2 separate regions of the Homo sapiens genome follow, and region 2 is linked to region 1. A link means that fine-mapping ties the variant in region 1 to the expression of a gene that starts in the linked region. Tissue or cell type: whole blood. Region 1 holds a variant in brackets; the other region holds the start of a gene. All regions are shown on one strand. Distances are between the middles of the regions.

The links.
Region 2: LINC00865 starts here. The variant in region 1 is fine-mapped to the expression of LINC00865 in whole blood (TOPMed, PIP above 0.99).

Annotation. Positions count from the first base shown.
Region 1 is chr10:89,879,682-89,895,985 of GRCh38, forward strand. The region is part of intron 1 of LINC01374 (long intergenic non-protein coding RNA 1374); the gene reads left to right. Among named protein-coding and RNA genes, the nearest start is that of LINC01374, 34 kb to the left of the region's middle. The variant C/T (reference allele first, on the strand shown) is at 9,213.
Region 2 is chr10:89,821,209-89,837,512 of GRCh38, forward strand. It overlaps LINC00865 (long intergenic non-protein coding RNA 865), which reads left to right and starts at 8,285. Exons shown (of 4, transcript NR_038382.1): 1 at 8,285-8,537; 2 at 8,762-9,096; 3 at 13,993-14,049; 4 at 16,010-16,304. It overlaps LOC105378424 (a long non-coding RNA gene), which reads right to left and starts at 9,613. Exons shown (of 3, transcript XR_946196.3): 1 at 8,824-9,613; 2 at 3,975-4,114; 3 at 2,312-2,558.

The DNA of each region.
Region 1 (16,304 bases):
TTCCTTTGCTGTGCAGAAGCTTTTTAACTCTAGTTGATCCCATTTGTCCACTTTTGCTTTGGTTGACTGTATTCGTGTGGTATCGCTCAAGAAATTTTTGCTCAAACCAATGTTCTGCAGATTTTCCTCAACGTTTTCTTGTAGTAGTTTCATAGTTTGAGGTCTTAGACTTAAGCCTTTTATCTGTTTGATTTTTTAAAATTAATATATGGTGAGAAATAGGGGTCTAGTTTCAGTCTTCCACATATGGGTATCTAGTTTTCTCAGCATAGTTTGTTGAAGAGATTGTCCTTCCCCAGTGTATGTTCTGGCACCTTTGTCAAAAATGAGTTCACTGTAGAGGTAAAGATATGTTTCTGGGTTCTGTATTCTGTTATATTGGTCTATATGCCTGTTTTTTTTTTTCTTTTGCCAGTGCCATGCCATTTTGGTTACTGTAGTTCAGTACTATAATTTAAAGTCAGGTAATATGATTCAAGTTTTGTTCTTTTTGCTTAGGATAGCTTTGGCTATTCTGGGTCTTTTGTGGTCCATATGAATTGTAGGATTGTTTTTTCTACTTCTATGAAGAATGTCATTAGTATTTTGATAGGGATTATATTGAATCTGTAGATTGCTTTGGGTAGTATGAAAGTTTTAACAATATTGATTCTTCCAATCCATGAACAGGTAATATTTTTCCATTTTTTTGGTGTCCTTTTCAAATTCTTTCATTAGTGTTTTATAGTTTTCATTGTGGAGATCTTTCACTTCTTTGGTTAATAACTGGATATTGAATTTTATTTGTAACTGTTATAAATGGGATTACTTTCTTGATTTCTTTTTCATATTGTTTGCTGTGGCATATGTAAATGCTACTGGTTTTTGTATATTGATTTTATATCCTGCAACTTTACTGACTTTACTGACTATTAGAACTATTACAGTTCTAATAGTTTTTTTTTGTGTGGAGTTTTTAGGTTTTTCCAAAGATAAGATCATATCATAAAAACAATGTTAATTTGACTTCTTCCTTTCTGATTTTGATGCCCTTTATTTCTTTCTCTTGTTTGATTGCTCTAGCTAAGACTTCCAGTAATATGTAGAATATCAGTGGTGAAAGTGGGCAACCTTGTATACCATATCTTAGAGGAAAGGCTTTCAGTTTATCCTCATTCTGTATAATACTAGATGTGGATCTGTTGTATGTGACTTTTATTATGTTTAGGTGTGTTCCTTCTATACTCAGTGTTTTGAGAGTTTTTATCTTGCGGGATGACAAATTTTATTAAATACTTTTCCAGCGTCAGTTGGAATGATCATATGGTTTTTGTCCTTCATTCTGTGATGTGATGTATCACGTTTATGGCTTTGTGTATGTTGAACCATCCTTGCATCCCTGGGATAAATTCCACTTGGTCCTAATAGGTTATCTTTTAAATGTGTTGTTGAATTTGGTTTGCTGGCATTTTGTTGAGGATTTTTGCATAGGGATATTGGCCTTTACTTTTCTTTTTCGGATATGACTCTGGTTTTGGTATTAAGGTAATACTGGTGTCATACAATGAGTTTAGAAGTATTCACTCTTCCTCTATTTTTTGGAATAGTTTGAGTAGAATTGGTATTAGTTCTTTTTCTTTACTGGGAGACTACTTATTACAGCTTTGATCTCATTACTTGTTATTGGTCTATTCAGGTTTTGGATTCCTTTATGGTTCAATCTTGGTAGGTTTCATGTGTGTAGGAATTGATTCATTTTTTTTCAAGGTTTTCCAATTTATTGTCATATAATTGCTTATAGTAGCCTCTGGTGATCCTTTGAATTTCTGTGGTATTGGTTGTAATGTCTCCTTTTTCATCTCTGATTTTATTTATTTCAATGTCCTCTCTTTTTTCTTAGCTATGCTAGCCAAAGGTCTGTCAATTTTTCTTTTCAAAAAAGCAACTTCTTGTTTTGTTGATATTTTGTATGGTTTTCTTTATTTATTTCTACTCAGATCTTTATTATTTCTTTTCATCCACTAACTTTGCATTTGGCTTGCTCTTCTGGTTCTTTCAGATGCATCATTAGGTTGTTTATGTAAAATTTTTCTTCCTTTTTGATGTAGGCACTTATAGCTCATTACTGCCTTCACTGTATTCCATAGGTTTTGGTATGTTGTTTTTCCATTATCACTTGTTTCAAGAAATTTTAAAATTTCCTTCTTAATCTCTTCACTAGATTACTGGTCATTCAGGAGCATATTGTTTAATTTCCATGTGTTTGTATAGTTTCCAAAATTCCTCTTATTATTGGTTTCTAGTTTTATTGTACTGTGGTGAAAGAGGATTCTTGATATGATTTCAATTTTTGAATGTTTTAAGACTTGTTTTGTGGCCTAAAATAGGGTCTCTCCTTGATAATGATCCATGTCCTGAGGAGAATGTGTATTCTGCAGCCATTGGATGAAATGTTCTGTAAATATCTATTAGGTCCATTTGGTCTATAGTACATAATGAGTCCAATATTTCTTTGTCGATTTTCTCTCTGGATGATCTGTCCAACGCCAAAGGTGGGGTGTTGAAGTCTACAGTTATTTTTGTACTGAGGTCTCTCTCTCTCTTTAGCTCTAATAATATTTCCTTTATATGTCTGGGTGCTCCTTTGTTGGGTGCATATATATTTAAAATTGTTATGTCCTCTTGCTGAATTGACTGCTTTTTCACTATATGACCTTCTTTGTCTGTTTTTATAGTTTTTCTATTGAAAGCTATGTAGTCTAATATAATATAAGTATAATTACTCTTGTTTTTTTTTTTTGTTTGTTTGTTTTCCATTTGCATGGACTATCTTTTCCCATCCCCCTTAATTTCAGTCCATGTGTGTCTTTACAGGTGAAGTCTGTTTTTTGTAGGCAAAAAGTCACTGGGTTCATTGGGTCTTTTTTTTCTTTTTGATTCATTCAGCCAGTCTGTGTCTTTTGTTTTGAGAGTTTAGACCATTTACATTCAATGTTACTGTTGATGAGTAAGGACTTACTCCTGCATTTTGTTGTTTTCTGGTTGTTTTGTTGTCTTCTCTTCATTTTTCCTTCCTTCCTATCTTCCTTTTAGTGAAGGTCATTTTTTTCTGGTGGTATGTTTTAATGTCTTGCTTTTTATTTTTTTGTGTATCCATTGTCTGTTTTTAGATTTGAGGTTACCATGAGGCTTGGAAGAGAAAAGATGACTTTATCTTGTAACTTGAATACAATTCTTTGTATCTCTTTGACCATATTCATGTTTTCCTTTATATTTCTGATTATATGGAACATGTTTATAATAGCTGTTTTACTATCCTATTACTAAATTCTGCCATTTCTGAGTGTTTTCTATTGGTTGATTTTTCTTATTGTTATGGGTCATGTTTCCTGCTTCTTTACATGCCTTGTGTGTTGGTCACTGAACACTGTAAATTTCATATTGTTAGGTATTAAATTTTATTGTATTTCTTTAAAGAGTATCAGGCTTCGTTCAGTCAATTTACTTAGGATCAGTTTAACTCTTTAGTGGTTTGTTTGTAAGCTCTGTTAGGGTGGGTCCAGACAAGCTTCAGTCAGGGCTAACTTAGAGTCACTGCTAAGGTAATACTCTTCTCACAAGGCTTCCCAGTGCTCAATGTATTACAAGGTCTCTTCAGTCTGGCTGATGGGGTGGTGATATCTCTCCACTCTTGCTGTAGTTTCCAGGAATTATTCATCCTACTTCTGTCCGGTGTTTCTTTCTCTAGCCTTGTGAGGTGTCACCACAAAAAGGTACTGATCAGTACTCAGCCAAAGACTCAAAGGGATCACTCTGTGGAAGTCCAGAGGTCTCCCTCTGTGAAGCTCTTACCTCTTCAGTATTTTGTCCTACACATTTTAGTTGTCTTAATTTCCCTAAAGTTTAGTTTCTATTTGTTCAATTCAAGGAGACTCCTGGGCTCTATTTGGGTACTCTTCCCTGTGCTGTAACCTGGAAACTGCTTCTAGCAATAAGCTGGATCAGTTGTAGGGCGCAATTCACTTGTAGGGATTATAGTTTTATGCTGCTGTTCCCATATCTGAAAATAAATAATGCATTCTTTAATGTCCTCTGGATCCTTCTGGAGAACAGAATCATGTGGGGGGGTTCTTAGGCTCTCATAAATATATTGTAACACTTCCACTTCCATAAGCCTTTTGACCATTTCCTCAAAATACAGTAACACAGTTTCAGCATCCCCATATATTTTATTCTAGGACATTGCCATGTCAAGCCTATCCCAGCAGCGTATTATGACCAGTTACAAAGGCTTTGTATGATATTAAGCCTTGAATCATAGAAAAGTACTCCTATGTTAATACACTTGCTTCTATCCAAACTTATATTCTATCTTCCTTGTCCAACATCCCTCAGCTCTATCTCCCACATTTTCCTCTAAATCCTGCCAGTATGTAGTAGCATTAGGGGTTTATGTTGAGGGGAAAAGAGGGTGAATATTGGGAAGGACAAATATCTGATGACATTTTTATAAGATCTCCCTCCAAGGAGGAGGAAGCTTTTCTTCTCTTACAAGGGGAAGGGATTTGATTCTGTCACCTCAGAGGTCTCAGGACATTCTGGTGCTTTACAATTCTCATCTGTGTCTATCCAGATGTTTCTAAGGTATCAAGATGCCTCTTTGGTTTTTTCTATTAGGACTTGAATTGCTACAAGCATATAATCTATACTGCAGGTATTTCATATAGGCATTAAGTGATTCAGAACCAACTAATTTTTAGCATCATAAAATTAGGGTTTCACCGGCTTGTAGTTTGACAGGATACTTATTTATAAAATGATTTTCACAACAATCTTTAAAGGTAGGTATGATCTCGATTCAACCTTGGAGGAAACTGAAGCTCAGTAAAATTAAGTGACTAGCCCAAGGATGCACAGTGATCAATTGCAAAGAATGAACTCTATTTTGTCTCTGAAGTATGTGCACTGCCCATTATGTTACATAACCTTTCTTTATAGCTCCTATCAAGTCATTCTACATAAGAAACATCTTATGTGGGAAACACTTCAATCTAGCAACTGGTTACTGTAATGAAAAGATATAGTGAAACTAGATACTTGAATTGACCAGTTTATATATTAATAATTTTGTGATGGATTCAATTAAAGATTTTATGAAAACCTTGGAAGAGTATGAAATAATTATACAGTGTTTATTATTTTAGCTCTCATTTATCTATTTTGGATACCTGAACTTATATGTTAAAGAACATTAAGTACATATAGTTAGGTTGGAACTCAGCTGGGATTCAACTTGTTTGCTGAAACTTCAGATACTATAAACTAGTATCCTGTGTAGTCAGAATTATATTATCTTGACTCATTAACTTTATTTAGCATCTATTTTATACTACATACTGATTTTATTAACTTCTAATCACTCTTGTTTCACTTGTTTGAGATAGGTAAAGCAGAATTTATCTGGAGTTTAAGATTAAGGCTGACAGATTAAATCTGCTTCTGTTATTGTTTGTTTCTGATATTAAAAGAGACTTCTTATTATGACCCCAGTCCATCCAAATTGTATACTATAATGGATTCTATATGAATAAATTAAGGGATCTAGATTTTAATAGTAAAACCATTTTATAGCAGCAGTAGTTTTATAAATGGATATTTTACCTCTTAAACAAAATGTAATTGGAAAATAAAATACACTGTCATTCAAATAACATCTCACGTTATAAATAATCAGTTTGGATGCAGCTACAAGATTTTTCTGGCACAGAAGTAAATTAAACACTTTAGTAAATTGTCAAACTGATGAAAATCCTAACCCTGTGCATGTTGTTTTAATGGTGTAAGAATATGGACAACAAGATGTTTTTGTTCTTTTATTTTTATCAGAGTAAATGGAAGAATAGTGTCACAGACAAAGGTTCTAGGATTTTCCTGGGAAAAGGAGGTTATAGCAGTTAGAAACGCCAGCAGTAGCTTACACCAATAATTTATTAAGATTTTTGTTTTTACATTATTGGCATTCCAGGGGTAGGTGGTTACTGTTGTAGGCTCATCTTCTCAACTCTCCCATCAGGGACCCAGTTACTTTCTATCATTCTGAACTGTTATTCTTCGCGTGTACACCTTCATTCTCCTGTTGGTTGCCTCACGGCTACGAGATGGCTGCTATAGGTCCAGCCATCAGGAAAAATGGGGAAGGAGCAGGACATGTAAGATCCTTTATCAGGCCACCTTCACATATATTTTCTAGACAAGGATTATATCACCGGGCCATATTTAGTTGCAAGGAGACTGGGAAAGTGAGGAACAGAATTGATTTGGCTAATCACAACTCATCTCCAGAGAATAGGCAATTTCTGCTTCCAAATAAAGTTGGATACTGTTCAGGAAGAACAGGCTGGATATAAACCGTTTGTGTTTTGGTCAGCAATATGTTCTGGTTTTGGTTTGGTGGGAAACAGGAAGCTTACTGAGGAAGGGAGACACCTGGAAGTAGTCTTAATCTGGCCATAAGGACCATGACACTCTAATATTATTTGATGGTGTGTGGGTTTCTTTTTTTCCAGAGACATCTATAAACATGGCTTTGTTACTAAGCCAAAGCCAATTATCTTTCAAAGTGATCTTCAGTTTGCTATTAGCTTCCCAGAAAGAACAGTATGATTATTAATAAGATTGAGACTAATAAACTACTGATGAGCACCAGTGAGCTAATTTGTAACCTCATTTTTATAAATGACATAAGCTTTTCACCCTAAGAAAAAGAGATATATTGAGAAGACAAACAAACAAAAAATCCAAAACTAATCTTCTTCCTCCAGACAGAATCTCTTCCTTCTTTTCTTCTAACATGAAATATTGTTGTTAACCAAATATTTTTCTTTTAAAATTCTAGGAATCACTTTTTGGAAATCTAGAATTAGTGAACTCAAATGGTTGTTAATGTTTTATTATTGAAATAGTGAAGCAAACTAAAATAATTAAAACTGATATGGATTACCATATTTATTAGCATATATTTCCTACATAATAAATAGTTTGCAGTTGATATGAGAAGAGAGGAAGCTGTGAGATTACCTGACTGGATGGACCTTTGCAGCACTGACACCTGCTGCTGAATTTCCAGAAATTTCTCCTGGCAAATCTCTGTGCTGAGAAAGGAGTAAACCAATTTAGAGAAGAGGCTTACGAGTCCAAACAGGAGCAGATGATGAAGAATCAGATAAACATTAACGCCTCAACCTACTTAAGCAACTAAGATTCAATTAAACCCAGTTCATACCTCTTTGGTAAGTCTGAAGTTTCAGAACACTTGCTCTAAAATTCAAATTACTGAGCTGTACAAATTATTTTTCCTCCAATTGTGTGATGAAATATGGGAAAGACAGAAAAAGACACAAATGCATATGGTAATCCAGAAAAGATTCCCCCTCCCTATTTTCTTTTGAGTTAGATAAAAGCTAGAGCACCTAACAGAATAAGATACCGAGAGAACCAGTGTAGTCATCCAAAACAATGAAACAACTATTTTAATTCATAAAAAAGCATCATTGTAGTAGCCTTCATTAGGTATTCCTTCTAAAGTCACTTTAAAGGAAAAAGAATATGTTCAGACATAGCAAAAGAAAAAAAACACGAAGGCAAAATTCCTTCAGATCAGGTTTTGGAGATTTTTTTTATATTAAACCCATTTTGTAAATAGGTTTTCCACCTGATTTAAACCAATCGTTTTGTTATTCAAAAGTCTAGGTTGTTGTTTTGCATTTTAAAATACAGCCATTCCCCAGGGAACTGTCTCTGCGATTAGAGGGAGAATTTTAAATTCCCCTTTCCACAGATAGATGTGTACAGGAAAGAACACCAAACTGAAAGAGCAGCTTGGCTCTGCCACCTATCAAATTAGGTAAATCTGTCTCCCTCTGGGTTTCACTCTCTCCTCTGTAATATGATAAGTACCTAGATTGGACTAGATGATCTTTCAGTTTCCCTCTCTGAGTCCGTTTGGGGGCTGCTATAATAAATACCATAGACTGGGTGACTTAAACAACAAACATTTATTTTGCACAGTTCTGGAGGCTGGGAAGCTCAAGATCAAGGTGTTGTTGATTTGGCTCCTGGTGGGGACGTGCTAGTTTTGGATACGGCTTGTTTATCCCTGGCAAATCTTATGTTAAAACTTGTGGTGGTGTTGGGAGGGAAAACCTAGTGGGAGATGCTTAGGTCATCATCAATGGCTTGGTGCAGTTCTTTCAGCAGTAAATTCTTGCTCTAGTGGGACAGGATTAGTACTCATGAGACTGAATTAGTTCCTGATACAGTGAGTTGTTATAAAACCAAGACAACCATTGTGAAACTGCCTTTGCAAAGATTATGACGTGAGAGAAGTCTGGCATGGCCGCCTCCGTCTTGCCTCTAGCATCACAGGCTGGCTGTCTCCGCTCATTCCTGGGCATGGACGAAGCTAACCATGAGAAGAATTTAGTTTACAGTTTAATTGTGAAGCAAGGATAATAATAGTCGCTTCCTAAAACTGATCCGCTCCTTGTTTGGAGACTGAAACAGTCTTTGTAAGACAATGAAAGGTCACAAGATTAGTATTCTGAGAGGGGCCTGAATTCTGCTAAAATGTAAGTATAGTTAAATGATAAACAGCTGTTGTTTCCTAGCTTGTTTTCCTATAATCCCTTACTGCTCAGGAGTCATGAAGCAGAGGCCACAGACTTGTAATTTCACCAATTGCTCCTACAGGTAACATCACTATCGCAGAATGTAAGATTGGTCTTTTGAGATTGTTTAGATTTTTGTATTCTGGTGACAAATTGATTTCACCTAGACCCATGCCTGATGACTCAATTGGTCCTGTGACCCCCTTCCAGAGGCTGACTCAGTGCACAAGAACCATTTTCCATACCTCTATAATTTCATCCCTAACCAATCAGTAGCACCTGATTTCTTATCCTAGCCCCCCCCCACCCCCCCCTACCCCCCCACCCCCCACAAGTTATCCATAAGAACCTTAGACTGAGTTCTTGGGGAGGCTGATTTGAGTAATAAGCTTCATCTTGGTTAGCCCTGTGTTAATCATAAGTCCTTTGCCACAAAAACCTGCTGTTAGTGCAATAGCTTTTTTGGGCAGTGGGCAAGATGAACCCATATGCTTGGGTTTGTTTCCTCTTTGTGTATGTTCACTTCTCCTTTAACCTTCTATGTTATATTTAGACCTAGCATATGAC[C/T]CTCACCAGAAACTGAGCAGATGCTGACACCAGAACAGATGAAAAACTGACTTTTGAGGGAGAGGTTTGCATCTGTGGAGGAAATGAAGTGAAGTAAACAACAGATAGAAACAGGCTTTCTTTGAAGCCCCCCTTGTTGGGACCTGGGAAAGATGAATTGAGAGTCTGACAATTTAAAGCTCTGACAGAAATATTTACTGCTGGCTACGATTTATTTTTTTCTGAAGGCTGCTACCTGTGAGGTTTCATCTGCATAGTAAGACCCCTTTGCTAGTAAGGTGTTTCCTCTTCTCTTCCTTCCATAACCTGTTTTGCTACCATAACCTATTTTGCCATGCTCTAGAGCCCTCATTTCTTCTGTAACCTCAAGATGGTATAAAAGTGTCAACCCTCTTACATTTCTTTGAGTTTTAATATTTTATATGACTCTTGTGCACATATATGTATGTCATAAAATTTGAATGCCTTTTTCCTACTAATCTGTCTAGTATCAGATTGTTTTATAGACTCAAATTATTGAATCTTAAGGGGAAAAATGTAAATTTCCCTATAGGTTTATAGCTAGAAGGAACTTGCCTTGAGTCTCAAATGAGATGTTGGACTTTGGACTTTTGACTTGATACTGGGACTAGTGAACACTTTTGGAACTATTAGAAGAGAAAATTGTCTAATTGTGTTTTGAATGTGAGAAGGACATGAATTTTGGGGGGCCAGGGGCAGAATGCTATGGCTTGGTTATGGCTTGTTTGTTCCCACCAAATCTCATGTTGAAATTTGATCCTCAATGTGGCAGTGTGGGGAGGTGGGGCCTGTTGGGAAGTGTTTGGGCCATGGGGGAGGATCTGTCATGAATGGCTTATTGTTGTTCTCCTGGTAGTGAGTTCTCGCTCTAGTAAGATGGAATTAGTTCTTGCAGAAACAGATTAGTTCCTGAGAGAGTGAGTTGTTGTAAGGCCAGAATACTTCTTGATTTTAGTTCTGCTTTGCATGTGTCTACTTTTCCTTTGACTTTCTCTGCCATTTTTTGACGTAATATGTGGCCCTCACCAGAAGCTGAGCAGGTGCCTATGCCATGTTTCTTGTACAGCCTGCAGGATTATGAGATAAATAAACCTCTTTTCCCTGCAAACTACCCAGTCTCAAGTATTCTCTTATATCAACACTAAATGGACTAAGACAGGGCTCTTTTCCTGGTTTGAAGATAGTCATCTTCTTGCTTATCCTCACATGAGAAAAGGAGGGAGAGTTCATCTCTTTTGTCTCTTTTTATAAGAGGACTAATCCCATTCATGAGGGCTCTACTTTTATGACCTGATTACCTTTCAAAGGCCCCACCTCCAAATACCATCACATTGGGAATTAGGGTTTCAACATGTGAATTTGAGAGGACACACAGACATTCAATCCATAGCACTTTTTCAGCCTCAGTATTCTGTGTTTTCCAGTCTCTGTGACAGAGGCCTGTATGGTCTAGGCAGGCAACTTAATGGAAGAAAATGGGCAGGTTCAACTTAAGGCAAACTGAGGAGAGTGTGCCCAGGCTAAGGGACACAGCTACTACTCAGCTCAAGCCCACAGGTGTGAGCAAGATTGCAAGGCTCATGTTGTAATATCTTATTTTTCAGGGGAGACTGCTCAGAAGTCAATCTTTTTGCCCTTAAGTCTATTCTTCCACTCCCACCGCTTAGCTTTAAATTGTGCAGACTGACTCCTATAGGCTGCGGTTTCCAGATTCCATTTCAGCTGGCTTCTGTCTGGGTCCTACCAATGGGAGGCACTGGTGGGAGATGGGGGTGAGGAAAAAGGGAGAAACTTGGTTGTTTCTAACCCTGCCTCTCAGCCTTGAACAATGCCTCCAGCAACAGAAATATCTCCAAAATGACGCTAGCTTTTGAGAGACAGGCCTATTACAACTCCGGCTTCCACTGAGTGACCTTAGTTCTCTCCTCATCCCTTCCTTCACACCCTATATCTGCCTCCTCCTCTCTCTCCCGTTTCGATGTGACAGTGGCTTCCTTTTGTTGCTAATCTCTATGCTCCCTCACAATTCCCTGTTTATCAGTTCTCGCTTCACCTATATGACCAATTTTCTCCATTATGTACTTCGTGTGTCAAAGATTCAGAGTTATTTCTTTTCTCTGAGGTTGGACTCTGACTGATGTAGGCTAGAAATATAAATTCTTGCCTGAAATCTTCCCATTTTTAAATGCTGGTAGATTAGTCAGAATTCTCCAGAGAAACAGAATAAACAGGATATTAATTAATTAATTAATTTCTAAGGTATTTGCTCACATGACTATCGAGGCTGACAAGTCTATAATCTGCAGGGTGAGCTGGCAGACTGGAGATCCAGGAAAGCTGACATTCTACTTTCAGTCTAAAGGCAGTCTTCTCCAGAACCCAGAAGAGCCAATGTTGCAGATGAAGTCTGAAAGCAGTCTGTTGGGGAATTCTCTCTTCCTGGGGAATACTGGTCTTTCTGAAGGAGCTTACTCACATGGGGGAAACTTCCTTTACTCAAACTCTGCTCAAGGTTTCTCTTGCTCAAAAATACCCTCATAGAAACACCCAGAATAATGTTTGACCAGATATCTGGGCACAACATAGCCCAGCCAAGTTGACACATAAAATAAACCGTCACAACTGGCAAACAATTAAAAACACCCACTGGGTCAAAGAAAACATGACTTCAGCTTCCAGGTACATTTGTAACCTCTGTTCTCTAAATGTACATGATCAAACAAATAGACAAAGACAGATTTTGGCAAGCTTATAGAATTTCATGTCATAAGAAGTGTTCAATGTTGTATTCTCCCTAGGATAATTGATGCCAAGGAGTATTTGAGGAATATAAGCTGTGTGAGAAGAAGAGCCTCTGTTGTTGCAATCCTAGCACAGTGCCAGGCACTTAGTAAATGTACAATATATATCTGTTGAATGAATAAATAAAAGGAGTTAAATTTAATTGGATAGTTATTTAATTATCACCTGCTAGAGGCGAGGCACTGCATTAGGTGCTGTTGGAAATTCAAAGATGTGTAAGACACACCTTTGTCCAAATGCACTTGCAGTTTGATAATGCATGTAAGGCTAAGTGATAAAAAATTTTTGTTTCTCTTGAGAAAAAAATGAACAATGGATATATTATGGGCAATAGGTATTATATACTTAACCACATTTCCTTTTGATTTTGCTGTCTGGAAACACAGAGCTAAATTTCCTGTTCAAACCTGGCCGGAATACAGTAGCATCCTAGAGCCAGCTTACCTGTGCTTTTGTCCTTCTCAATAGTCCTTCTCCCTTCTGCTTACCCACCTGTTCTAATGCACATACCCCTAGGATTTTACTTGAAAAATAAACCTTTTATAGTTTTGTTGATTGGAGTCTCTGTAAGCTGACCCAGATCCTTTGTGGAATCAGGTAACCTGAAGTTTCTCGTGATTCAAAGGAGAAGTGACTCTGGCTCTTTGGATTAGGGAAGTGTTTATCCAAAGGTGGCATCTCATAATTTTAATTTCCATTTCCCTGATGATTAGTGATGTGGAGCATTTTTCTTACATTTCTTTGCCATTTGTATATCATCTTTTGTGAAATGTCTATTCATGTCATTTGCCCACTGTTTGCTAGGATTATTTATTTTTTCTTGCTGATTTGTTTGAGTTCTTTGTAGATTCTGGATATTAGTCCTTTGTTGGATGCAAATCCATTCTGGGGTTGTCTGTTTACTCTATTATTATTATTATCATTATTATTATTATTTTTGCTGTGCAGAAACTTTTTAGTTGAATTAAATCCCATTTTTTTGTTGTTGTTGTTGCATTTGCTTTTGGGGTTTTAGGCATAAATTCTTTGCTTAGGCCAATGTCCAGAAGAGTTTTCCCTAGTTTTTCTTCTAGAATTTTTATGTTTTCTGGTCTTATATTGAAGTCTTTAATCTATTTTGAGCTGATTTTTGTATGTGGTGAGAGATAGGGATCCAGTTTTATTTTCTTACATGTGGCCATTCAGTTTTACCAGTACAATTTATTGAATAGGGTGCCTTTTGTATACTTTGTCAAAGATTAGTTGGTTGTAAGTATTTGGATTCATTTCTGGGCTCTTTTTTTTTGTTCCATTGATCTATGTGTCTACATTTATACCAGTACCATGCTGTTTGGGTTACTACAGCCTTGTAGCATAATTTGAAGTCAGGTAATGTGATGCCTTGGTATTTCTTCTTTTTGCTTAGGATTACTTTGCCTATTCAGGCTCTTTTTTTGGTTCTGTGTGAATTTTAGGATTATTTTCTCTAATTCAGTGAAAAATGATATTGATATTTTGATAGAGATTGCATTGAATATGTAGATTGCTTTGGCAGTATGGTCATTTTCATGATATTGATTCTTCCAATCCGTGAACATGAGATGTATTTCCATTTGTTTGTGTCATCCATGATTTCTTTCAGCAGTATTTTGGAGTTGTTGTAGAGGTCTTTCACCTCCTTGGTTAAGTATATTCCTAGGTATTTTATTTTATGTATTTTTCGTCTGTGCAAAAGGGATAGATTGACTTCTTTATTTGATTTTAGCTTGGTTGCTGTTGGTGTATAGCAGTGCTACTTTGTGTACATTGATTTTGTAACCCGAAACTTTGCTGAATTTGTTTATCAGGTCTAGGAGTCTTTTGGAAGAGTCTTTAGTGTTTCCTAGGTATACAATCATATCATTGGTGAACAGTGATAATTTGACTTTGTCTTTTCCAATTTTGATGCCTTTTATATATTTCTCTTGCCTGGTTTCTCTGGCTAGGACTTCTAGTACTATGTTGAATACAAGTGGTGAAAGTAGGCATCCATGTCTTTTTCCAGTCCTCAGAGGGAGTGCTTTCAACTTTTCCTCATTCAGCATGATGTTGGCTGTGGGTCTGTCACATATAGCTTTTATTATTTTGAGGCATGTTCCTTATATGACTAGTACATTGAGGAATTTTATCAGAAAGGATGCTGGATTTTATTGAATGATTTTTCTGCATTTATTGAGATGATCATATGGTTTTCATTTTTAATTCTGTTTATGTGATAAATCACATTTATTGACTTGCATATGTTGAACCATACCTGCATCCCTGGGATGAAACCCACTTGATCATAGTATATCATCTTTTTGATGTGCTATTTCCTAGTATTTTCTTGAGGATTTAGCATCTATGTTCATCCAGGATATTGGTCTGTAATTTTCTGTTTTTGGATGTCCCTTCCTGGCTTTGGTATCAGGGTGATATTGGCTTCATAGAATGAGTTAGGGAGGATTTTTCTCTTTCTCAATCATTTGGAATAGTTTCAGTAGGACTGTACCAATTTTTCTTTGAATGTCTGGTAGAATTTGGCTCTGAATCCATCTGGCCCTGGGCTTTTTTTTGTTGGTGGTGAATTTTTTGTTCATGATTCAATCTCACTGCTTGTTATTGGTCTGTTCAGGATTTCTATTTTTTCCTTATTCAAGCTAAGAGGATTGTATATTTCCAAGAATTTGTCTATTTCCTCTAGGTTTTCTAATTCATGTGCGTAGAAGTGTTCATAGTAGTCTCAAATAATCTTTTGTATTTTTGTGGTGTTGGTTGTAATATCTCCATTTTCATTTCTAGTTAAGCTTAAACTAGCTAATGGTTCTATCAATTTTGTTTATCCTTAGAAGAACCAAGTTTTCATTTAATTAATCATATATATATTATATATATATAATATATATATTATATATATAATATATATTATATATATATATTATATATATATATAATATATATATAATATATATATATAACTAGTTTGTTGAGGAATTTTATCAGAAAGAGATGCTGGATTTTATTGACTGCTTTTTCTGCATCTATTGAGATGATCATATGTTGGTTTCAATTTTATTTAGTTCTTCTCTGATCCTTGTTATTTCTTCTGATAACTTTGGTTTGGTTTATACTTGTTTCTCTAGTTCCTTGAGGTGTGATATTAGGTTGTCAATTTGTGATTTTTCAGACTTTTTGATGTAGGCATTTAGTGTCATAAGCTTTTTCCTTAGAACTGCTTTTGCTGTATCCCAGAGGTTTTGACAAATTGTGTCACTGTTATTATTCATTTTGAAGAACTTTTTAATTTCCATCTTGATTTTATTGTTAACTCCAAAATCACTCAGGAGCAAACTGTGTAATTTCCATGTATTTGTACAGTTTTGAGGGTTCCTTTGAAATTGATTTCTAGTTTTATTCCACTGTGGTCTGGGAAGATATTTGATATGACTTTCATTTTTAAAAATTTATTAAGATTTGTTTTGTGCCTATCATATGGTCTATCTTGGAGAATGTTTCATGTGTTCATGAGAAGAATGTATATTCTGCAATTCTTGGGTAGAATGTTCTGTAAATATTTGTTAGGTACATTTGTTCTAGGGCACAATTCAAATCCAGTATTTATTTGTTGACTTTGTGTCTTGATGATCTGTTTAGTGCTGTCAGTGGAGTACTGAAGTCCCCCACTATTATTGTGTTGTTGTCTGTCTGTTTTCTGAGGTCTAGTAGTAATTGTCTTATGCATCTGGGAGTTCCAGAGTTAGGTCATATATACTTAGAATTGTAAAATCTTCTTCTTGGATTGATTGTTTTATCATTATATAATGACCTTCTTTGTCTCTTTTTTAAATGGTTGTTGCTTTAGTTGTTGCTTTAAAGTCTGTTTTACCTGATAGCTACTATTGCTCACTTTTGGTTTCCATTTATGTGGAGTATCTTTTACCTTGTGTCTATAAGAATCCCTTAATTGTTAGGTATGTCTCTTGAAGACAGCAGATATTTGTTTGACCATTTTTTTAAATCCATTCTGCCAATCTGCATCTTTTAAGTGGAGCATTTGGTTCATTTATATTCAACATTAATATTGAGACATGTGGTATTGTTCCAGTCATCATGTTGATTGTTACCTAGTTACTTTGTTTTCTTCATTATGGTACTGTTTTATAGGTCCTGTGAGTTTTGTGCTTTCAAGAAGTTCTATTCTGGTGCATACCGACCTTTGTTTCAAGATTTAGAACTCCTTTTAGCATTTCTTATAGGACTAGTCTGGTAGTG
Region 2 (16,304 bases), 58 kb before region 1:
GAGTATTCCTTAGTGAATACTGAAGAATTAACGAACACCAAATTTAGCACAGGTAGAAACTGAGCCAAAGAGTGTTTGTTTCCATTCATGTATATTAAAAGTCTTAAGTTCATGCAAAGCCTCCCAAAGTTTCTATAAAACAATGCTTGAAACCTCATTCCAAAAGAGGCAACATTCTTAAATGGACATATCTTCATGCTGAAGTCTTCAGAATTCTGAAACCTCATCTACTAAACTAAAAGCTGACATTATTTGAAATAAATACTCTTGTTGAAACTTGGGTTTGAAATATTCTGTTGCATCCCAGATCTGTTGATCATCTGTTGTGCCTGAATTTCTGTAGGGACAATATTTAACCTTTGTGTTAAGTGGTTCTTAAATGGCACTGTGAGGAGGGTAGTGTCACATCAGCACACTACAAAGTGCCTCTGTATCCCCGGTGACATTTTGTTCTTTGTGAGACCTCTGAAGTATTGCTTAATGGCAATTGTTGTCATCATAGGATGGGTAAAGGTATCTTGTCACAGATTTAGAACTGGCTTAGAGACAGGAAACAAAGTGAATCAGTAGAAATGCACATTTGTTTGGAAGGAAAAGGGTAAACACAGTGGGGTTCCTCAGGGATTGGTCTGGCTCAATCTTATTTAAAACATTTATAAATGATCCAGAGAAGGGCTCACACAGTGAAATCTCCAAAGTCTGCAGCTAATGCTGAACTACTCTGGATATGGAAAAGCTAAGTGGATGAGTACCAATGCAGGGAAAATTTAGGAGGCTGTTCTAATATGTAGGAAAGCAGTAAACATAGACTTTTATTTTTTTTTAGAAGAGTTTCACTCTGTCACCCAGGCTGGAGTGCAATGGCGCAGTCTTTACTCACTGCAACCTCCACCTCCCGGGTTCAAGTGATTCTGATTCCTCAGTCTCCCAAGTAGCTAGAAATACAGGCACGTGCCACCACTCCTGGCTAATTTTTGTATTTTTAGTAGAGACGGGGTTTTACCATGTTGGCCAGGCTGGTCTCGAACTCCTGACCTCAGGTGATCTGCTGCCTGGGCATCCCAAAGTGCTGGGATTACAGGCATGAGTCACTGTGCCTGGACGACATGGACCTCTTAAGTGTGGACATGTGCAGTGTAATGCATTTAGAACAGAAAAATTCAAAATATTTTAAAAGGATGATTCTAAAATATGACACAGGAAAAAGACTCCAGGGTGGAGCAAATCTGCCGTCACAGAGATTCGCCAATGTAATTGTTTTCTCCGTGAAGACAGAAAACCATGATAATCAGTATGACATTAGATTTTCCAAAACTTCAGCTCTTGGCCATGCATTCATTAAATTCATATAATTGAATTAAATTAAATTCATATAATTTATATGTTTATTAAATTAAACTCATATAATTAAAATTTATATAACTAAATAAATATATAATATAAGTAAGTTCATATAATTTATATGTTTGGAGAGCACCTACTATACAGGACAGCTTGGGCACTGTGATAGATACTGAAGAAGCCTCCAAGGGACATGACCTGAGAAGTAGGCAGTGAGAGTGATGGGAGGAGACAAGTGAGGGTCTTTGACATTTGGGAACCTAGCGGTCAGCCTGGAGTGAGAAGTGGGCAAGGATCTCAGACACTCCTGGGAGCAGCTGCCACCAGGAAACTTCTAGTGATTGTGTCCAGGGAAAGGTTGCCTTTTCTGTTTATTCTAAACCATTTTATCCAGCTAGAAGTGCCTATCATGCTATTGCGTGTTCTTAGTCTCTGTGCTTTATGCTTTACATATTTAATTTGGATAATGTTGCACTTTATCTGAGCCTTGTGTTTCTGGAAAGCAGCACCTGTTGAGAATTTTGCCCATTCTTTTGTATCCCGGGAAATGGTTAACTGCAAAAGAATACCTTGTCCTCGCATCTTGCCAAGGTAGGAACTGTCTCCATCCCTCCTCATGATTCAAGGATAGCTTCTTTGTCTACCCAACTCTATAAAAGCCCAGAACCCCTTCCCTTTCTTTCACAAAATGAACATTCTCCTCATTGCAACAGCCTAAATAAAATCATCTCCTTAATTGTCTGGTGAATTTTGTTTTTCACAATTTCAAGTAATCAATTATAATAGAATATTTATTTGATCACTTATACTTTGTGCTTTTGCCATCAGGCACTGTGCTGGGCTGCAGATGTAAAGCACTGAGCAAGGCAGACTCTCTCCCGGCCCCCCAGCTCACAGGCTAGTAGGAGCATCAGATGATCAAACAAGGAATTATGAAACAGTGGATTGACTGTTGTGATAGGTATACAGGTGAAGTAAATGAATTACTGATTGTAAAAAAAAAAAAGAATTTAACCCAGTATTGAAAAATGCAGTGTTTGAGTTGCCGTTAAATGTTTCTTTGACGTACATCTTGAAATACAGAAATTGCTTTTATTGAGGAACAATAGGACTCATTATATAAGGGCCTGACTCAGCTGTGGGGAGGCTGGGCCATGCTTCTGTTCTGGCTGCTCAGAGGACTCCCAGAATGGCTGGAAAATGGTCACATGGATTCCCTGGTTGAAGGTAGAAAAGGGAAGAATATGACTGACACATAAACCTGAGTTTATCTGAATTTTTGATGTTTGGCACAGGGCACTACGAACTTGCTAATGGTCTATTGAGAAGACAAAATTGCAAGCCAAGGCCTTGGAACAAGAAAGCATTAGAAATATTTTCTTCGATCCTATTTTGTCTGGTGGATTACCATGGCAATGGGCTACTGGGAAGAGACAGTTAGTTCTACTAACACATTATTTTGTATGTGAAAACTTTGCTCAGAATGGTATTTGGTCTAGGACTTTGCCTGACTTCCATAGTGTGGGGAACTTAGTGTTTGAATAACATTGCCTAACAGATTCTGGTGTTCAAGTGTTTTCTAAATTTTAAAACCTTACCTCAGGACCTTGAAATAGGCAATGATATGTGGAGATACAGATCCTGGCTGCTATGAGCACATAAAAATAATAAATATGTTTAAATAATAATGCTTTAAAATAATAACAAATATTTTTTATTATTAAGATGATGAATAAAAATGATTAATATAAAAGTGATCAATTGTAAAAATTCAGAGAAAATAAATAACAAGAATGAAATAGTATTTATTAGTATCTCCTCCCTAACAAGGTAGTTATTATTTTACCCTCATTTTACACATGAATCAGCTAATACTAAGGTTCACCACTCAGGTCCGTTTGACTGCAAAACTCACACTCTGCTATATTGTTTCCAATTCTTGACTGTCATATGAATTCTGGTCACTGCCTTGAAACTGACTACTATAAAAGAGAAGTTGCCCCAAACCTGGTGTGGGAAGGAATCTTTTTACATGATGTAATTTGCAACCTCATTCTGAGAAGAAATTAACATTCCTGACAAAATGCTTAAGTAATATTCTGGAAAACATTAATGGACCAAAGTCTTGTTCTAGGAAACCAGTCACCTATCTACCCCACTGAATGACATTCAACAATCTAGTGGCTTTTAACAAACATTCTCTTCTTTTTGTATTTTCCTATCAAATGTTCTTATGAAGAATGTATTAATATTTCTGATTGGCTTACTGGAGGCCTTTGTCCTTGAAGCAAGATTGTAACAAACTTTGACAGTGCCCATAACTAAAATGTCTGAAGGGTTTTTGTGAACACTCTAGACTGGTGTATTTGCTGTGGAATCAAACTTTCTTATCAATCCAGTGGATGTGGATCCCCTCACCTGCCTACTGCTTACCAACCTCCTCCCTGCTTCTTCGTCATTTCTTCCACCCCTCAGTATTTCTGTTCCTTGTTGATCTGGACTGGAGACATTGAGATGGCCTAGGCCCACCCAGTTGGAGCCCTGTTTTGGAGTATCTTTTTCCTTAGATGGTTGTGAGTCACTTCTCAAAGGCCAAGTGGAATTTTTCAGGAAAAATATCATGGGAAGGATACCTCATGAGGATAAGCTTAACTGTCCAAGATTTATCCTGAAGAGAGGGAAGGATGCACTGGGAGATAAACACCTGGCTGTTTTAAAAGGTCATTCATTCACAGTCTGATCTGGCTATCAATAGAGACCGTTTCACTGAATCCTGGAACACAAGAGAGAGTAGTTAGTTACCTTTGCAGCTTAAGAATGCTTAAGCCAAGTAAGAGAAAATACCACTTCCTCTGGTGGACAGTAAGTCAAGGGAAATATTATGAGTTTAAAAATGTTTTTATATATTCACAAATAAAAGAACCATGATTAAGAGACTCTGAAATGCTTGGAGAAACACTGTTCTTGTTAACATTATAGTTAGGGGCAAATCACCTCCCAAATGAATTGTTGAAGATGCTATTGGCCTGAATGGACCATTGATCCAATCCAGAAAATTATCATTTCTTTTTGTTTTGGCTGGAAGGCTTAGCTTTTAACATTTTGACAACAATTATAGAGAAAGAGCAATATTGCTTATTTAGCATCCTGCTGAATTTCCTTATTGTAGAATTTTCATCTAGAGTTTGGGTAACTCTAAAATGCTTCAGAGGTATTAACAACATTGCAGTCTTCACCAAGTGAGGAAAACCTACAAAAAATGTGTGTGTAGGTGCAATGAAAAATTTTCAAGTCAATGTAAATGTGTTATAAGAGTGGAGAACCTGGAATTTTTAGAAGTAACTCAGCCCTAATACTTTCTGTCAAAATATAGAAGGCCACAGCTTTAGAAAATAAATACAAAACCTCAAACTTCTGTCCCTTTGAAGAATAAGAAAATATGAAACATAAAAATAAAATATCTGGAAAATACAGAGACATTTTGTTTTGCATCTTCATTTTCTTATTATTGACAAATTGAAAATTCCTGTTTTGTATTAAGCACAATGTTTGCTGTCATAAAACGTTTAAGCAGTGTGATCTGGGTTTATTTTTTGGAGTTGCCATCAGGGAGGACAGATTGCTTTTTTAAAAGTTACATTTCATTTTTTAAACCTTGAGCTAAAAAGCCTTTGGAGAATTGGGGGCACTGTCAGTGAGGTGCCTAACTCCTAGGGAATAGAAATAGAATGGCCTGGATGAAATATTTTTGTAAACTTCTCAAAATTCAAAAGTGTAACTATATGAATTTACTTTCTATTTAGTCCAGTGGATAAAAAGTGAAAGTTTGCCTTAAGGTTCAGAGTCTTGTGCTAAATTTGTTCAAAATTTCATGTGAAATAGTTACCAAATGGATACTTCCACCACACTTATCTACTTATGGTATCTGGTATTAAAAATAAAACCAAAGGAAGAAAAAGGCTGCTAATAATGGCAATGAAAACAGCTCATTCATTGGCTTTATTCCTTAGGCAAGGATTTCCAGAGCACCTTGATAGGTCTTAAGGATGTCAGATAGTGGGCATAGAGTGATGAGGAAGACAGGCACCATCCTTACCCTCATGGAGACTCTAGTTTAGTAGGAGAGGCAGGCCAAATGTGCAAAGGCCTGCAGGAGGCAGGAAAGGGACCTAAATTTGTGAAATGGTGTGAATTGATGGGAAGTGTGACAAACCAAAAAGAGAATGCACTGATTAAAGCTTTTCAAAAGAAATACTGTGTGGACCATGGAATGCATCTGTAAGCAGATTAGTCCTACATACCATTTGAAACCTCTACATTAAAGGAATAATTGCACAAATAACCATGCTAACCATGCAGGAAATAAGGACTATAAGGCATAATCCAAGATGTCATGAGAAAGTATAGTCATGATTCCTGACTATAATTCCTGAGGAAGTTGCATTTTACCAGAGACCCGAAAGATTTGATTAGTAGACTTAGTAGGCAGTAGGGACTGGAGACAGAAGATTTAAGGTGAATCTAACAGTAGAGGGCACAGGATATCTGAAACTTCCATGTGATTGGAGCCCAGTGAGTGAGGGGGGGAAGCAGCGAGGGATGAGCTGAAGTTTTAGGAGCCAGACAATGTAAGATTGAATAGGCTATGTTGAGAATTTAAACTTACTCTAAAACTAATGGGAATTTCTTAAAGGATTGTAAAAAAAAGGGAGGATTCGATCATATATATATATATATATATATATACACACATATATATGTATATATACATATATATGTATATATACGTATATATACATATATATATTACAAGCATGTTCTTATTGAGGTGTGGAGAATTCAGCAGAGGAAGAGGTCAAGGTGGGATGTGGATAGAACAGTTAGGAAGCTGTTGCAGCAGTTCAGGTGAAATGGACTGGGCTTTGGTCAGGTGGTTGGCCATTGAAATACAGAGACATTTTATCATTTGGGATTTGGAGTAGCTGTAACTGAAACTCCAAATTACAGTGGCTTGGACAGATATTTATTCCTCTCTCGCATAACTGAAATCTGTACATAGCCTAGAATTCAATTGGTGGCTCCACCATTCTTAGGGACCAGATTCCTTCCATTTTGTCAATACGTGACTTCAACCTCCTCATTGACGGTGGCTGCTTTAATTCCAGTCATGTTGTTTTCATCCCAGACAACGTGAATGATGAAGGGAGGAAAAAAGATACATCCCTTTCCTGTAAGAGAATTTCTAGAAATTATACGTGATGCTTGCAGTTACAGCTCATTGGAAAGCACTCAGTAGCATGGCCCCATGTGATTACAATGGAAGATAGACAATAAAATGTTTACTCTAGGTTACTACAGGTCTAGTTGAAAATCAGGACGTCTATGACTAAGGTTGAAAGGAACAGAAAACGTTGATAAATAGCCAACATCTGTAATACAAGTAGATAAAGTTGAGACTTGTTTTGGAAATAAAGTTAGCAGGATTTGATAACTGATTTAATGGGGGTTGGGTGAGGACAAGAGAAGGAACAAATCTCATTTCTACTTTTCTGAGACAATCAATGGTAGTACCTTTTTGGAAATGAAAAAAATGAAAAAAGGGGCAGGTTTAGGGCAAAGAACAAAAATTAATTAGCTGTTGGGAGCTTCCTCAAAATTATAGAGGGAGCAATTTATCAATTTTTTGTTGTTGTTCCATTCTAGAGATGTTTTATGCCCATATAGGAATGTGGGTGTGCATACCTGATATGTGTGTATACACACATATTTTATTTTTACAAAAATGGTAGGGTTTAATTATACCATTATATACCTAAAATCCTTTACTTGATATATATTGGGGATCTTTCCATATAATTGCATGAAGAAGTGCCTTACTATTTTTAATCATCACAGAGTATTTCATTGTATGGCTTTGCCATAATTTATTTAACCAGTTCTTATCTGTACATTTGTTTCTGTTTTTTTCAGATTATAAAAAATGCTGCAATGAATGTCTACACTTTAAAGTAAAATTGTTGGGTTTAGGGGCACATTATTGAAAATTTTGGCTTGCGTATTTTTTTCATAGAGGTGTCAGCAATTTCTACTCCCACTGGCAATATATCGGGATGCCTGTTTTCCTTTACTCTTGTCAACTCAATGTGTCAAGCTTTCTGATGGTTAAAATAATATTAGATTTTTGTTTTAATTTGCTTTTTCTTAGCAGAAATGAAATAAAACACTTCACATGTTTAAAATGTTTTATTTCTTTTTCTAAACATGTCCTCATTTTTGCTATTGGATTCTTATTTTCTTATTTAATTGAAGGAACTGGTTATACGTTAGATTATCTGTTTTGCAAATATTTTCCTGTTTATCCTTTTTTGTCCTCATAGTAAATTTCTTTCTATAAATTCAACTTATTTACTATGAATAGCTTCTTGTTATTAAGTAGGTTTAATACAGTTACCACGTTGGTTTGCATGCTTTAAACTTTATTCTCCTCTGTAAAATACATCATTTTACAGAAATGAGCTCATACTGAATATATCTTTTAGGTTTCTGCTTTTATTCTCACTTAATAATAAAAATCTTTCTAAGTCATTCATTGTTTTAACAAATTATTTTTAATTGTTTCATACATTATTCTGTCATTTGGAGTTAACAATAATTTACTCAAGCAACCCTCCCGCTGTTGCATAATTAGGTTATTTTCATTTAAAAAAAAACCGATATAAGCTACAGCCATGGTAGTTTCACTATGATAAAGTCCTCAAAGTAAAATTTGGAGGTCATTGTGCAAAAGTACTCTCCTTGTGCTTCAATGCTTCCCGCAGCTAGACCAAGCTCCGCGGGCAGGAGCTGGAGTCCAAGCTAGGGGAAAGAAGGACCTTCCGGGCCCATAAGGCGGGAGGCAAGGAGGGCCCCTGGGCAGCCCCGCGCTTGCGCGCCAATCACGGCCGTTATGGATTTCGATACGTTACCAAACGGTCTCCTACAAAGGCAGAAACCGTTTAAATATTTCAGAAGGATTGATTTTCATTTTGCAAATATAATACTGGTTCATTTTCTTTCTCTTCCTCCATCCATTCTACTATTGAACATAAAACGTGTCAATAGTATTGTAGTTCAGCATGTATCTCAGGATATTAAAAGGGCAGTGTGACTCAGCTAGAAAAGGATGAACTTTCCCCAAAGATAAAGTGACCTATGCGGTAAGTCCTACGGGACTTCATATCCTCATTGGAGAGAGGTTTAGGGTGTTTCTAGTTGTAGCAGGGTTAGTTGCACCTTAGGTTGAAGCAAGATTTTGCTACTGGAAATTAAATATGGTAAAAGGAGGTGCTCTCGGCCGCCAATTTGACAAGGGATGGACCGTGCTGGTTTTGTATCAACTGGCCTAAGCTAGAACTTCATTTCCATTATGTCTCCATATCAGGTTTGGCCAAAAGATATATCTATGCCAGATTTGGGAAGCAGAAGTGAAAGAGTAACCGTTACTCTGTGTAGCTGGTGCGGAAGGAGAGAAGTGTAGATGTACTGCTTGTGGGCTCTAGCTTGTCCTCGCCTGCCTCTGTCTTGACTCCAGCTGGTGTCCTTTTCTGCCTGCCTTGCTGACCAACAGCAGCCCCAAACCCACAGTCAATGCAGAGGCAACAGCCTTCCATGCACTTCTTCGCCAGCTCCTGTTGTGGTCTCACTCTTGCAACTGGATGTTCCCAGTTCTCTATATGTAACCTGTGACTTTTCCTTCACTTGACTACTTCAGGAGAGGTGAATAGAGACTTTTCTCCAATTCTCCACCTTCCAACGGTGGCCTTACTTCCCCGTCTCCTCCCACTATTGTGCAAGGTCTAATTTTTTAATCCTTAGACTATAAACTCTGTGGAGGTAGCCACCTGTTTAGTTTACAGCTATAGTCCCAGCGCCTGGCACCCAGAAGACACTCATTAAATGTTTGAAGAATTATTAAAGCCCCCAATAATTGATAGCCCTTATTATTTATCCAGTACTTAGATTCTCAAATATGAAACACGAACAACTTGGTTTCATTATCTGGCTTAAAAAGCTTATCAGGGAAAAAGTTTTTAAAAATATATTTTGGGCAGCATTTGAGTCATTTCCCGCACCCCCAAACCTATGTCAGTCGATAGGAAGTCTGAAATTGCCTTGAGTTCTGTAGGCAGGACACTTCAGTGGGCTGAAAAGTGTTGGGCTTATACCTCACTGCTCACTGCTCATCATAACTCTTCCCCTCTTTGCTTGGATTTTTTTTCTTAAATATGCCATGGTCAGCAAAATTTTTATTTCCTTTCTTCTGTAAAGTGACTTCTTTAAAAACCCTAATTATCTTATACTACCTAAGTTTTAAATTGTCTGAGAGAAATATTTTCTTTTTGTTTTACCTAAGAGTGTCTTTTCAATTTTCTTTTATTATCTTTTCAAAACCATATCACTCAACCATCTACAGCTTAGTGTGCAGCATTGTGGTATGAATATGTGGCTGGAAAGTCAGGGATTTAAAAGAACTATGAAATATATATTTTGACTTTTGGGGATAATTTTCTGGGAACAGATTTTTAAATACCTCAAGCCTTTTTTATATACTAATATCCTACCAAATATATGCCATTTTAGCAGCTCATAATAGTTATTAATAAAATATTATGGTTGTTATTCTATTGTTTAACTCTTCCCCCATGTCTTCTCATGAAAAGCTCATATACATAATGTATATTGTATTCTTCCATACTGACTATAACATATTGACTGTTCCTGACCCTTCTGTTTAACCAGTTTTAGCATTTTTCACTTTCCTCATTTTCAGTCATTCTTCTCTTTTTGAAGTATTCCCTGTTCACTTCCATCAGGTTGGAATTTCACTTTGGCCTCACAGTCTACTCAATCTCTTTAATGTCCCATGAGCACATCTTTCATGGCATCTAAGTAGGCTACCATGTAATTCAATCATTTTTCACACTTCTTAAATGTTAAAAAAATTAATACATAAACACTTAGAAAAGTAGAAAATTCTTCATTTAATTATATTAACTCTCAACAATCCTTAAAGTTCTTTAATTGTAAATTTCATTAAGGTAACTTAGGTTCTTGTTCATAAAGTCAAAAAGTTGTATGTCATGTAATGCAAATTACACCATTATCCACTCTTCTCCATCTCTGATTCTCACTCTCCAAAGGCAACAACTTTCATCTCTTTTAACTGTTTTTTTTTCTATTGTTTACTGTCACAAGCCTATAATATACCTCTCATACTATTTATTTTTCAGTTTGGTTCTTATCTATTGCCTTTCTTCTACAAAAGATGAGGAGTTGGCTGTCTTACAACTGGGCATGTAGCTTCTTCTTTCATTTCTTAATCTTGCAATATCATATTTTTAAAAATCTTATCAGTGTTTAGTGTTTATTTTGACAATGTAAATATTATTCACAGATGAACTTGTAGTGTATTAGGTTTACTTCTTTTTTGTAGACCTTTGCTTTTGTTTTTCCTTGACTATGCATTGCCTTGATTTTTGTTTAGTTAGTTTTCTAAGTAGTTATTATCAGTTCATTCTGCCAAATTCTGACAAGTCTTAAGTGCCTTTTGATACATTCAAATGAAACTATCCAGTTTCTTTTATTTTCCTTTTTTTCCTGGAGGCCACGGTCCTAGGTACATTGCCTTCATGAGCTCCTTCCTCCATAAAAAATAAAAATTATTTTACAGCCACGTTGGTATAAAGGTAAATATGATCAGGGTGGATTTATTATCATATAGTCACTGTTATTATATTAATTTTATCTCCTAATTTTAAAGGAAATTAAAATGACGACATTTTTGTAAATTCCTAACAGCGTCATGGGCCCTCAAGCACTATGCCTACTCAGCCTAATGGATGAGTCGGCCCTACGGAAGGCATTCTTTGCTTCTGAACCCCTCTTTTCTCCTGTTCCAATCTGGACTACTTATTCTGTAGGCCCTGAGATGTTTTCTTACTGTTATCCTGACAATTCAATTTTTTTCTCTCATATATTGGATCCCCTATTTCTGTGAATATGTGGCTGGTTTTCTTTCTGGTAGTACGCCTTCATTTTGATAGAGTGCATCTTTCAGAAGGCTCTGCTATAGCATGTCTGGAGGTAAATATGAGGCCTTGCATGTGAGATAAATGTTTCAATCTACTCTCATAATTGGTTGTATAGAGGAAGAGTAATCATTTTCTTCAACAGTAAGTTCTTAGTTGAAATGAACTTCTGTAATACAAGACAGATCAACAAGAGAAAAACAGAAGTGTATTAACATGTGTATTTCATACATACACCAGAGACACCCAGGGAATGAGTAGTTCTCAGAATTGGCTTTGAATTCTGGCTGATATAGCATCTTCAATAATGAACAGCAAATTTCTGGAGAGGTAAAGGAAAAGAACTTTAGGAGTGGCAACTTGTGGGAAGGCAAATGCATAGCAAATAAAGGCTAGCTAGTAATGTTTGTTAATGGAGATTTCCCTGGTATCATCTCCAGGTGGTAACAGTTTAAAGTTGTCTTATGTGGTTATCTTTTGGTCTCCCTGGTAGAAGGGAGGCAGAATACTTTTAGTTTTTGTATGTCCTGCTTTTAGGCAAATAGAGGGATGGCAGAGAGCTTCTCTGCATCTGCTTCTTCTTAATTACCTGCAGCTCAATAATCCTTTATATTTTGGAGTAGCACAACAGATAGTTTGGCTGGATATAGAATTCTGGGTTGAAAATTATTCACCTCCTAGATTTTTTAAAACTGCGTACATCATATATGTTCATTGTAAAGAATGAAAAACATATAGAAAGAAGAAAATAAACCAAGCCTGAATGCTGCACCCTAAATTAGCCATCAATATTCTGGGATCCTTATCGATAAGGGGGTCAAATAGTCTGTTTGGAATGTACCCTGTCACTTGCTCCCTGGTTTTCAGAACAGTCTTACTGCCTTTAGGGCGACTCTGGTCCTAAAGTCCAGAGCTTTGCTGAATTGACATCTCTGGAGAATAAACCAGTTTACTGCCAGTGGGGAGTGGATATGGACTGCTAAGTATTGAGACTTCCAGTTCCCCTATTTTTCATCTTACCTGTTCCACCATTGGGCACATGCCACCTCCAATTCAGGGCTTTTGAGGGATTTGCAGCAGAAACTACTCTGTTTATATTTCTGCCACTGCTGGCTTAGGTTTTCGCTTTCTCATCTTTGCTAAAAACTGCTAATAAAACATCTGCATTGTTGCTTCCAAAATTGTATTGCTGTTGTCTCTTTGCCACTTCTATTCATTCTGTGGTTTGACCTTTTAAATTAATATCTTTAGGATCCTTATAGTGAGCTATGGGAGGGAGTAAAGGTATATGTCCATGTTCATTTTCTGATGATTAGTGGGAAGTGTCTCATAACATTCTTGTATACATTTATTTTTTATTTTTTTGAGATGGAGTCTGACTGTCACCCAGGCTGGAGTGCAGTGGCCCAATCTCTGCTCACTGCAACCTCTGCCTCCCGGGTGCAGGCAATTCTCATCCCTCAGTCTCCTGAGTAGCTAGAATTACATGGACACCACCCTGCCCAGCTAATTTTTGTATCTTTAGTAGAGATGTGTTTCTCCATGTTGGCCAGGCTTGTCTCAAACTCCTGACCTCATATACCTTGACCTCCCAACATGCTGGGACTATAGGCTTGAGCCACCGTGTCTGGCCTTATATACATTTTTATACACTATTTTAGTGCTCTAGAATCCTTAGGGCAAAGTAACTATGTGTGTGGTATGTCTGTGTTAAGGATAAGATGGTATCAGCCCTAGAGTCTGATGCATAGTTGAGCCTTAATTTTATGCTATTACTATATTTATTTAATCAAAAACTTATCTTCCTTACTCCTTTTCCTCACATATAAGTAGCTTAAGTGTTAAAATATATTCTTTCTTCACACAATGACATTAAATCTATGTCAAAACAATTACCTTTCCAGGAACAAATAGAACCTGTCTTGCTTGGAACTTAAAAATAATTTTTCAAAATCCAGCAGAACATCTCTCCTTTTTGTAAAGCATGATTATGTCCTACCTACACACATTAGGAGAAACTATACCTTAAAAATATAGAAAATTTATGTTGGGGTGTGGCGATTCATGCCTGTAATCCCAGCACTTTGGGAGGCCTAGGCGGGCAGATCACTTGAAGCCAGGAGTTCAAGATCCACTGACTAACATCATGAAACCCCATCTCTACCAAAAATACAAAAATTAGCTGGGCGTGGTGGCACATGCCTGTAATCCTAGCTACTTGGGAGGCTGAGGCATGAGAATCACTTGAATCTGGGAGGTGGAGGTTGCAGTGAGCCAAGATCATGCCATTGTACTCTAGCCTGGGTGATAGAGCAAGACTGTATCTCAAAAAAAAAAAAAAGAAACAAACAAACAACAACAACAAAAAACAAAAAAACTGTATATATAGAAATTTAAAATATAAAAATTTATCATAGCTGTAGACATAAAAGTTATAAAAATAAATCTACAATCATTTCAGTTTTTATTAACTCATTTACTTCTGATACTAATTAAAAATCTCTCATATAAGTCCATTTATAAGTCCAAATAGAATAAACAAATGTTAAGTATCAATAATATTTAAATTTTTTTTTTATTCCAGACTCTGTTGGGTACAAGTGACACAGAAAGTCATCTCAAACTAGCTGAAACACAAAAGGTAATTTATTTGTTTCAATACCTGGAAATTCCAAGAGTTTTTTTTAGCTCTAGTTATAGCTGGATCAAGATGAGTGTCAAATGATATAATGATATTGTCAGTGTTTGAGTGTCTTATCTATCATGTGTCTATCCATACATATCTATACCTACATATATACATATATCACACACGTTTTATAAAAAATTTATCATGTCGACAATAATATTTAAACAAATACCCAAATAAATATTAATCATTGAGTTTTCTCAGAAGGCTAAATCACTTACAAACAAAATGGAACATTTTTATATTTTTATAATTTCCTTCTGGTACTGTGGATCACAGCCACAGAAGGAAATCAGTCTAGTAATATTATAGATAGGACATTCACTGGTCCCAATCTGATTTACATTTTCTTATGGACATTTGTGAATTTTTAGCTCTGCTTAGCATCTAAAATCCAGTGTATGTTTGGAATCTTTTTCAACATTATTAGCCATAGTGTGGAGGAGAGACTGCCTCACCCAATGGGAGATGAAAATGCCAAACTCTTGCTTGCCTAGACTCCCTTGGAGCTAGGACATGACCAAGTGAGGTACATTCCACTAATCAGATTCAGCCATGGAAGCAGGAACCAGTAACTCAAAGAAGCAGGGACTGAGAGCCTCCATTCAGACTGAATTCCTAGTGCAGCTGTGGCAGCAGAGCTAGAGGCAGTGTCACAGTGCAGTAGTGGAGGGGTTGGTGGTGCAGGCTGTAGAGTCTTTTGCTTGTTAGTGTTGGTAGGGATGTCAACATTAGGTGAGCTGTGTCATGTCTTGGTGAGCCTGTGTTTCATAGAACCTGGCTCTTCATACATGCTGGCAATGTAATCCACCCAATATCATTATCACAAACACCTTTCCCATTGAAATTAACCTGAGTTGGTTTCTGTTGCTTGCAGCTGATGAATGGATGACCTTCTCTTCCTCTATGTCATCTCCTTTAGTTATGTATTTATTAACTTAAATCTCATATTACTCTCTTTGGCCTCTGCTACCTGAATCTTCTGGTATCAGCTGAAGAGGGAGTCTGGGAGGCACAGAACTGGAAGTAAGGCCATACTGGGCCTGGGAGGCAGAGAGAGTCCTACTGGAGGGCCCTCAGAAAGTGAATTCAGCAGGCACCAGCCTCCAGCCACAGGGTCCTATGCCCACACTTGCTTCCACAAGCCTGGTCCAGGCCACCATCATGTCGCCTGGACCATGGCCGTATTTCCTAGGGTCTGCCTACTCCTGTCCTTGTCCCTGTAAACACTTTATCAAACACAGGGATATTGTTAAAACATAATCAGATCATGTCAATTCTCTGTGAAAACCTCATTCTCTCAGAGTAAAAGTCCTTATAGAAGCCTAAAGGCCATACATGGTACCCGCTTCCTCCGAAAAATCGCATTCTCTTTATTACGCCTTCGATCCCTAGGAGAACCTAAGTTCAAGAGGAGATGCTGGGCAGGGAGGGGCCAGCCACTTGCTAGGGTGCCCCAGCCCCTGTCTGCTTCAAGAGCCAAGTCATTTTCTCCTGGACCCCTCTGAGCTGAAGACAGGAAGAGCCGGGGGAGGGGGATCTCTTGGTCTGCGCCTCAGTTTCTCAAGAACAGCAACAGCAGAAAAATAAATTGAGAGATGAAGGGGCTACCACCATCCAAGTGGCCACAACCATCCACTCCCATGCCGGCCTGGAGTTAGCAGACGGGCGCCACTTTGCTCTGCTTGTCCCACGCCCATGGAGGGGGGACACCGTCCGGAAGTGAAGGCCAGGAAAACAGAGGGGAGAGACAGCGGGGTGGGGTGGGAGCAGTCGCTGCTGTGAACTCGCTGGAGCCCAGACTCACGCAACTAAGGGGCAGCAGTGGGAAGAGAAACGGAGGGGTGGTGGGGGAGCTGGCGCTCTGAACGCCTGTTCCTTCTGTTCAGACTAGTCTTTGTTTATTTTGCAGCGCAGGAAGGCGGAAGGGAAGGCGGAGACCGGCAAGAGAGGGGAGAAGGCCCGGGGAAGACGCTCGGGACCAAGATGCGGGGCCCGGGTGCGAGCAGCTGAACCTCTCGGCCCCCAGGCGTGGTGACCTGGGTGGCGACGCTCGTGGAGGCCGAGGAGCTTCTGGACCGGCGCTTCGGGGGACCAAGTGGAGAGGCTGCTGGAGTTGTCGCCTGAGTCCTCCCTTAGTTCTTCGCGCCGGCCTCGCCCACGGCTCCGGGTCCCAGCCGCCACTGCAGTCTCCGCAGCACCGAGCG